Linked DNA regions of Homo sapiens: regions 1 and 3 are each linked to region 2. Evidence: fine-mapped expression QTL. A gene starts in region 2. Each other region holds a variant in brackets. All regions are shown on one strand. Distances are from middle to middle. Region 1 overlaps ARSH (arylsulfatase family member H). Region 2 holds the start of ARSH (arylsulfatase family member H). Region 3 overlaps ARSF (arylsulfatase F).

Evidence for each region. PIP is the estimated chance that this variant, and not a neighbour inherited with it, causes the effect.
Region 1: its variant is the best candidate, but not a certain one, in a credible set for the expression of ARSH in minor salivary gland (GTEx, PIP 0.82).
Region 3: its variant is the best candidate, but not a certain one, in a credible set for the expression of ARSH in nasal epithelium (TOPMed, PIP 0.51).

The regions. Positions count from the first base shown.
Region 1 is chrX:3,026,623-3,029,390 of GRCh38, forward strand. ARSH (arylsulfatase family member H) reads left to right here. Exons shown (of 9, transcript NM_001011719.2): 7 at 691-853; 8 at 2,625-2,746. Among named protein-coding and RNA genes, the nearest start is that of ARSF, 13 kb to the right of the region's middle. The variant G/A (reference allele first, on the strand shown) is at 1,340.
Region 2 is chrX:3,004,928-3,007,695 of GRCh38, forward strand. It overlaps ARSH (arylsulfatase family member H), which reads left to right and starts at 1,619. Exons shown (of 9, transcript NM_001011719.2): 1 at 1,619-1,777. The coding sequence starts at 1,686.
Region 3 is chrX:3,047,670-3,050,437 of GRCh38, forward strand. The region is part of intron 1 of ARSF (arylsulfatase F); the gene reads left to right. Among named protein-coding and RNA genes, the nearest start is that of ARSF, 7.6 kb to the left of the region's middle. The variant G/A (reference allele first, on the strand shown) is at 1,427.

The DNA.
Region 1 (2,768 bases), 22 kb after region 2:
GTCTCATGATTGATCTTACGGCAAGGGCTTCATTTTTGTTTTGTGCTCAGAAACACCCAAGGGGACTTTTGTCTAAGAAGTGATTCTCAACTCTGCCTCTGGCCATTTTTCTACTCACACTCCTCTCTTTCTTCCTCTATATGGGAAATCACGGGGTAAAGTTTTTTAGCTTGTTCCTCAAGGATCATTATAATGTGGATAAAACCTGTATTTTTCTTTTCTTTTTCTTTTTCTTTTTTATTTTTTGGAGACAGAGTCTCACCCTGTCACCGAGGCTGGAGTGCAGTGGCACAATCTCAGCTCACTGCAATCTCCACTTCCTCGTCTCTGATCCCCCGACTTCAGCCTCCCGAGTAGGTGGGACTACAGGCATGCACCACCATGGAGTGCAGTGGCGTGATCTCGGCTCACCACAACCTTCGCCTCCTGGGTTTAAGCGATTCTCCTGCCTCAGCCTCCCACGTAGCTTGGATTACAGGCGCCCACCACCATGCCCAGCTAATGGTTTTGTATTTTTAGCAGAGACGGGGTTTCACCATGTTGGCCAGGCTGGTCTTGAACTCCTGACCTCAAGTGATCCGCCCACCTCGGCCCCCCAAAGTGCTGGGATTACAGGCGTGAGCCACCGTGCCCGGCCAATATGGTTGGGTTTTAACTCATCTTTGGTTGTGTCGTAATCTTTGGTTTTAGGTGGCAAAGGAATGGGAGGATGGGAAGGAGGTATCCGTGTGCCAGGGATATTCCGGTGGCCGTCAGTCTTGGAGGCTGGGAGAGTGATCAATGAGCCCACCAGCTTAATGGACATCTATCCGACGCTGTCTTATATAGGCGGAGGGATCTTGTCCCAGGACAGGTATGGAAACAGTGTTTGCTCCTAACCTAGGGTGATATATTTGAACATAAGTGGATATACTTGATAATTCTATGTGTGTGTGTATGTACATAGTATATTACTTAATTATCAATATTCTGCCCATAGGGCCAGATGTCTTTCTCCCCTTGGTGCGTGGTGGAATATTTTGTTTTCTTCTTAGAGTATACCTTAATATCCTTTGTCATATTACACTTATGCCTGTGTGTGTTTGACTGTTCTCATGGATGGGATCTGATTCTCATACATCATCACATCCCTCACAGCTTCTAGACCATTATGCAATTAAGTGTTAAATGATTACTGAATAAAAACATGTATGCCTAGAGCAGGTGCGGTGGCTCGTGCCTGTAATCCTAGCACTTTGGGAGGTCAAGGCTGGCGGATCACTTGAAGTCAGGAGTTCGAGACCAGCCTGGCCAACATGGTGAAACCCCCATCTCTACTAAAAATACAAAAATCAGTCTG[G/A]TGTGGTGGCACGTGCCTGTAATCCCAGCTACCTGGGAGGCTGAGGTGGGAGGATCGCTTGAACCCAGGAGGTAGAGATTGCAGTGAGCCGAGATCTCGTCACTGCACTCCAGCCTGGGTGACAGGGTGATGCCCTGTTTCAAACAAAAACAAAAACGAAAACAAAACACGTATGTGTAATTGCATGTGTGCTAAATGATATTATTCTTTCTGGTTTGCACTTTGTCTATGAGCTTATTTTTAATTTAATTTAAATTTATTTTTTTTGAGACAGAGTCTCGTCCTGTCAGCCAGGCTGGAATGCAGTGGTGTGATCTCGGCTCAGTGCAATCTCTGCGTCCCGGGTTCAAGTGATTCTTCTGCCTCAGCCTCCTGAGTAGCTGGGACTACAGGCGGGCGCCACCATGCTCAGCTAATTTTTGTATTTTTAGTAGAGATGGGGTTTCAGCATGTTGGCCAGGATGGTCTCGATCTCTTGACCTCGTGATCCACCCACCTCGGCCTCCCAAAGTGCTGGGATTACAGGCACGAGCCACCAGGCCTGGCTTTGTCTATGAGCTTTAAAATGAACAAATACATCCTGTGCTTTAACGATTTAATTCCATGTATGTGGGGTGATATCTATTCATTAAATGTGAAGTTTTATTGGAATCAAAAGGGCGTAAATAGCTTAATTTTTCCAATCCACAACAGTAACTCATATTGTCTTGCAAGGTATCAGGATAATAGTTCTAGCTGTTCTCTTCTTCCATGACCTCAGAAAATGAATGTTTTGTTTCTCTTTCTTTTTGTTATAAAATGAGGGAAAAGGAGAAAGTTTTAAGAATTCCTTCTTCCGCCAGGCGCCGTGGCTCACGCCTGTAATCCTAGCACTTTGGGAGGCCGAGGCAGGCGGATCATGAGGTCAGGAGTTCGAGACCAGCCTGGCCAACATGGTGAAACCCCGTCTGTACTAAAAATACAAAAATTAGCAGGGCATGGTGGCGTGTGCCTGTAATCCCAGCTACTTGGGAAGCTGAGGCAGGAGAATTGCTTGAACCCGGGAGGCGGAGGTTGCAGTGAGCAGAGATCGCACCATTGCACTCCAGCCTGGGTGACAGAGCAAGACTCCATTTCAAAAAAAAAAAAAAAGAAAAAAGAAATTCTTCCTCTTTATCTTTCGCCTCCTTCTCTTCCTCCCCTTCCTTTTCCTCCTCCTCCTCCTCCTCCTCTTTCTTCTGCTATAAAATGCGTGACTGAACCATGCCTCTCTCATCACCTTCTACACACCCCCTTCTCTCCCAAGAGTGATTGACGGCCAGAACCTAATGCCCCTGCTGGAAGGAAGGGCGTCCCACTCCGACCACGAGTTCCTCTTCCACTACTGTGGGGTCTATCTGCACACGGTCAGGTGGCATCAGAAGGACTGTAAGTATGAAGGCTGTGGACA
Region 2 (2,768 bases):
GAGACAGAGTCTCTCTCTGTTGCCCAGGCTGCAGTGCAGTGGCGCGATCTTGGCTCGCTGCAACCTCCGCCTCTCAGGTTCAGGCAATTATCCCTGCTTCAGCCTCCCGAGCAGATGGTATTACTTTTTTTTTTTTTTTGAGACGGAGTCTCACTCTTGCTACCCAGGCTGGAGTGCAGTGGTGCAATTTCAGCTCACTGCAACCTCCGCCTCCTGGGTTCAAGTGATTCTCCTGCCTCAGCCTCTGAAGTAGCTGGGACCACAGGCGCGTGTCACCATGCCCGGTTAATTTTGTATTTTTAGTAGAGATGGGGTTTCACCATGTTTGTCAGGCTGGTCTCAAACTCCTGACCTCAGGTATTCCACTTGCCTTGGCCTCTCAAAGCACTGGGATTACAGGCATGAGCCACTGTGCCCGGCCTTGGTTACATTTTTATTCAATAAAGTAAACAAAAAAGTTTTTTTTGAGATAGGGTCTTGCTCTATTGTCTAAGCTGGAGTGCAGTGGTGCATTCATAGCTCACTGCAATCCTGACCTCTCAGGCTCAAGCAATCCTCTCATCTCAGCCTCCTGAGTAGCTGGGATTATAGGAATGCATCACTATGCCCAGCTATTTTTGTATTGTTTGTAGAGATGGGGTTTCACCATGCTGCCCAGGCCAGTCTCAAACTTCTGGGCTCAAATGATCCACCCGCATTGGCCTTCCAAAGTGCTGGGATTACAGGCATGAGTCACAGCACCCGGCAAAATTCAATTTTTAGAGCTTACCCTCAACTGTAACCCCTGTTATAAATTTTAAGCCTCTGATGTCACTAAAACAATATCAAAAGATGTTATAAGAGTTAAACCTCATCATGCTTGCAAAATGAATTGGTAAAATATGATGCCATATTCGTATAGAACAATGGTCTCCAACATTTTTGGCACCAGGGTCTGGTTTTGTGGAAGACGGTTTTTCCACAGACAGGAAGGGGGTGCAGGATGGTTTCAGGATGATTCAAGCACATTACATTTATTGTGCACTTTATTTTTATTATTATTACACGATAATATATAATGAAATAATTATACAACTCATCGTAGTGTATGATCAGTGGGTGCCCTAAGCTTGTTTTCCTGTGACTAGATGATCCCATCTGGGGGTGATGGAAGACAGAGACAGATCATCAGGCATTAGATTCTCATAAAGAGCACACAACCTAGATCCTTTGCATGCACAGTTCACAATAGAGTTCTCGCTCCTATGAGAATCTAATGCTGCTACCGATCTGACAGGAGGTGGAGCTCAGGCAGTGATGCAAGCAATGGGGAGCGGCTGTCAATACAGATGAAGCTTCACTCATTTGCCCACCACTCACCTCCTGCTGTGTGGCCTGGTTGCTAACAGGCTACGGACCAGTACTGGTCCATGGCCAGGGGATTGGGGACCCCGGTATAGAACATTAGTTTTTGTTGTTGTTGTTTAATCTAGTTTCTGAGTAAGACAACACAGGTACGTTGTACAGTGAGAACTGATAACGAATATCACTGTTTCATATGTTAAGTTATCTAAAATGCAAATGTTAATTGATAGTGCCTGGTTTTTTGCTTGCTTGTTTGTTTGCTTATTTCTAAAAATGCTTTCAGGAGCTGCTGGCTGTCAGTGTCCCTGTGCTGTTTGTTTTGCGGTGTTGATGGCACATTTATGACAAGAAACGCCAGACCCAACATTGTCCTGCTGATGGCAGATGACCTTGGAGTGGGGGATTTGTGCTGCTACGGTAATAACTCAGTGAGGTAAAGATGGACTCTGACCCCCTCCCTGTATGTGGGAGTCTCCCTTACCACAGTGTTCACGTCTTTGCCGTTGCAGAGAAGGGTTTCTGGAGAGAAGTCATTGTCTGATGTTATCGGCAGGAATAGCAGAGGTCACTGGGGAAAATTGCAAAATGTCAGGAGACCACTTAACCTCCCAGTTTCCTTAGATTCTAGCTGTTGGTGGTGGCGTTTTCATTGTTGGGCAAAATTTACATTTAAAAATTGGCCTTTTTTGATCAGGCATGGCGGCTCAAGCCTATAATCCCAGCACTTTGGAAGGCCAAGGTGGGAGCATTGCTTGAGCCCAGGAGTTTGCGATCAGCCTGGGCAACACAGGGAGACCCCGTCTCTACAAAAATAATAAAAAAAAAAATCTACTGGGACATGGTGGCGTGTGTCTGTGGTCTCAGCTACTCAGGAGGCTGGGGCAGGAGGATTGCCTGAGCAAGGGAGATTGAGGCTGCAGTGAGCTATGATCCCACCACTGCACTCCAGCCTGGGTGACAGAGGGAGACTCTGTTTAAAAAAAAAAAAAAAAATCACCTTTTAACCATTTTAAAGTGAACAATTCAGTGGCATTTGGTACATTCACAGTGTTGGACAACCGTCACCCCCACAAAGAAGACCCCCATTTCCCATCCTATCCCCATGCCCTGTTAACCACAAATGTACCCTCTGTCTCTATGGATGTGTCTCTTCTTAGAATTTCATATACAAGTAATCATATAAAGTATTTATTTTCTCAGGCTGCCGTGACAAAGGTCCACAGACTGGTTGGCTTAGATAACATCAGCTTATTCTCTCACAGTCCTGGAGGCTGGAAGTTCAAGATCAAAGTGTGGGCAGGGCTGGTTCCTCCTGAGGCCTCTCTCCTGTCCTTGTAGATGCCGTCTTCTCCCTGTGTCTTCACAGGGTCGTCCCTCTGTGTGGGTCTGTGTCCTCATCTCTTCTTCTTATGAGGTGTCTTAGT
Region 3 (2,768 bases), 43 kb after region 2:
GGGGACTGCCCAGCCCTCCCTATAAAATGCCAAGTGGAGCACCCTAGATAAAGCAGCTGATGTGCTTCATATGCAAGCCATGTGGGATTGGCTTAATGATGACCGGGATATTCACCAGCTGAATATGCCCATTACCCAATGTATTAGTCCGTTTTCATGCTGCTGATAAAGACATACCCGAGATTGGGCAATTTACAAAAGAAAGAGGGGTAATTAGACTTACAGTTCCACGTGGTGGGGGAAGCCTCACGATCATGGTGGAGGGCAGGGAGGAACAAGTCACATCTTACATGGATGGTGGCAGGCAAAGAAAGAGAGCCAAGCGAAAGGAGTTTCTCCTTGTAAAACCATCAGATCTCGTGAGACTCATTCACTACCACAAGAATAATATGGAGGAAACTGCCACCAGAATTCAATTATCTCCCACCAGGTCCCTCCCACAACAATGGGAATTATGGGAGATACAATTCAAGATGAGCTTTGGGTGTGGACACAGTCAAACTATATCACCGAGGTCATAGTGTGAAAGGAAAATAAATCTCAGGACCCCAAAATCACTAAGCCAAGGGAAAAGTCAAGCTGGGAACTGTGTCAGGCAAGCCTGCCTCCCATTTGATTCTTAAATAAGACAGCTACAAAGATAAGAAGCTACATACCCCCCTCACAATTTGTGCTTAAGGAAATTCCTTGTGGACAAAGGACAGACGGAACTCAAAGTCATCCTTCCAAGGCTCCCCTGAGACAAATGCTTATCTGATAACTTCCTCTGCCTCATTGCTTATGTAAAAGTACAGATTCACGGAGCCAGCCTAAATTGTGTATTCAGTGGAAAGCTGATCAAGGACTCAAAAGAATGTAACCTTTTGTCTCGTGTCTACTTCTAATCTGAAAGCTCCCACTTCAAGTTGTCCTGAATTACTGAACTGAGCCCATGTATGTCTTACACATATTGATTGATGTCTCATGTCTCCCTAAAATATATAAAAGCAAGCTGTGCCCTGAACACCTTGGGCACATGTCGTCAGGACTTCCTGAGGCTGTGTCACAGGTGCACGTTCTCAACCTTGGTAAAATAAACTTTCTAAATTGACTGAGACCTGTCTCAGATATTTTGGGTTCGCAATAGATTCTCAGTGTATTAATGATGTTAGGTGAAGAACTGTGAAGCTCATAAATTTGGAAAGGAAAGGTTTATTTCTATAAATGTTGTGGTTCAAGGGTCCCCTTCTACAAGAGCACCCCAGGTGACATTACTCTTGCAGAATCAAACAATGGTTTGAGAAACCTTATCAAATTTGCAGTTGTAGCTTTCCCTCATGGGTCTTACAGATGCTACCAAAAGACTAGGGTGTCAACGAGAAGAGACAAACTGTAAATTTTTTTAAGAGGTTTATTCTGAGCCAAATATGAGTGACCATGGCCGCCC[G/A]TGACGCAGACTTCAGGAGATCCTGAGAACATGCGCCCAATGTGGTCTGCGTACAGCTTGGTTTTCTACATTTTAGGGAGACATGAGATATCGATCAATACATGTAAGACGTACATTGTTTCCATTCAAAAAAGGTGAGATAACTCAAAGTGGGGGATTCCAGCTCATGGATGGACAAGACACAGAAGGTTGCATTCTTTTCGGTCTTTGATCAGAATACACAATTTACATGTGACGGAGGTTGGGGGGTGGGGGTGGTGGGTAGAGGAATAGTGACTGATGCCTGTTCAGTGAATCTGCAAGTTTGCGTAAACAATAGGGCAGGGGAATCTATCAGATATGCATTTGTCTCAGGTGAGCAGAGAGGGCTGACTTTCACTTCTGTCTCTCCTTTGACCCACACCTGTGAAGATAAGCCAAGGTGAAATTGAACAGAACTGTTTTAGGGTAAAGATCTTGAGGTCCACAAAAAATTTCTTTGTGGGCAAATTATGAAAGAGGTATGTAGCTTTTTGTTTTGTTTTGTTTGTTTGTTTGTTTGTTTTTGTCTCCATAGCTGTCTTATTTAGGAGAAAATGGGAGGCAGGTTTTTCTGATGCAGTTCCCAGCTTGCCTTTTCCCCTTGGCTTGGGGATTTTGGTTTCCTTTCACTAATTAACAAACAAAATTAATAAATTAACAAACAAAAACAGGGAAGGGAAAAGTGAGTCAAAGGGCTCATGCCAGAAGGGTGGAAATCTTTAGATAATTATTTTGTTATTATTATTAATTTTTCTTTTTTTGAGATGGAGTTTCGCTCTTGTTGCCCAGGCTGACATGCAATGGTGCCATCTTGGCTCACTGCAACCCCACCTCCCAGGTTCAAGTGATTCTCCTGCCTCAACCTCCTGAGTAGCTGGGATTACAGGCACCTGCCACCACGCCCAGCTAATTTTTTTGTATTTTTAGTAGAGACGAAGTTTCACAATGTTGGGCAGGCTGGAATCTTTAGATAATTGTTAAGAAATAAAAGAAAAGGAAAATTGATGGAGTTAAAACAAAAGACTTTACAACATGATCAAAGGTTGGGTGGGCCACAGGGAGCCCCAACTGGTCCCCCAACATGAAGGGGCCCCATGCCAGTTTTCTTCATTTGCCTCAGATTGGAGAAGTTTAAGAAAAATTGAGGCTGGGCATGGTGGCTCAAGCCTGTAATCCCAGAACTTTGGGAGGCCAAGGCAGGCGGATCATCTGAGGTCAGGAGTTCGAGACCAGGCTGGCCAACATGGTGAAACCCCGTCTCTACTAAAAATACAGAAAAATTTGCTGGGCGTCGTGGCACGCACCTGTAATCCCAGCTACT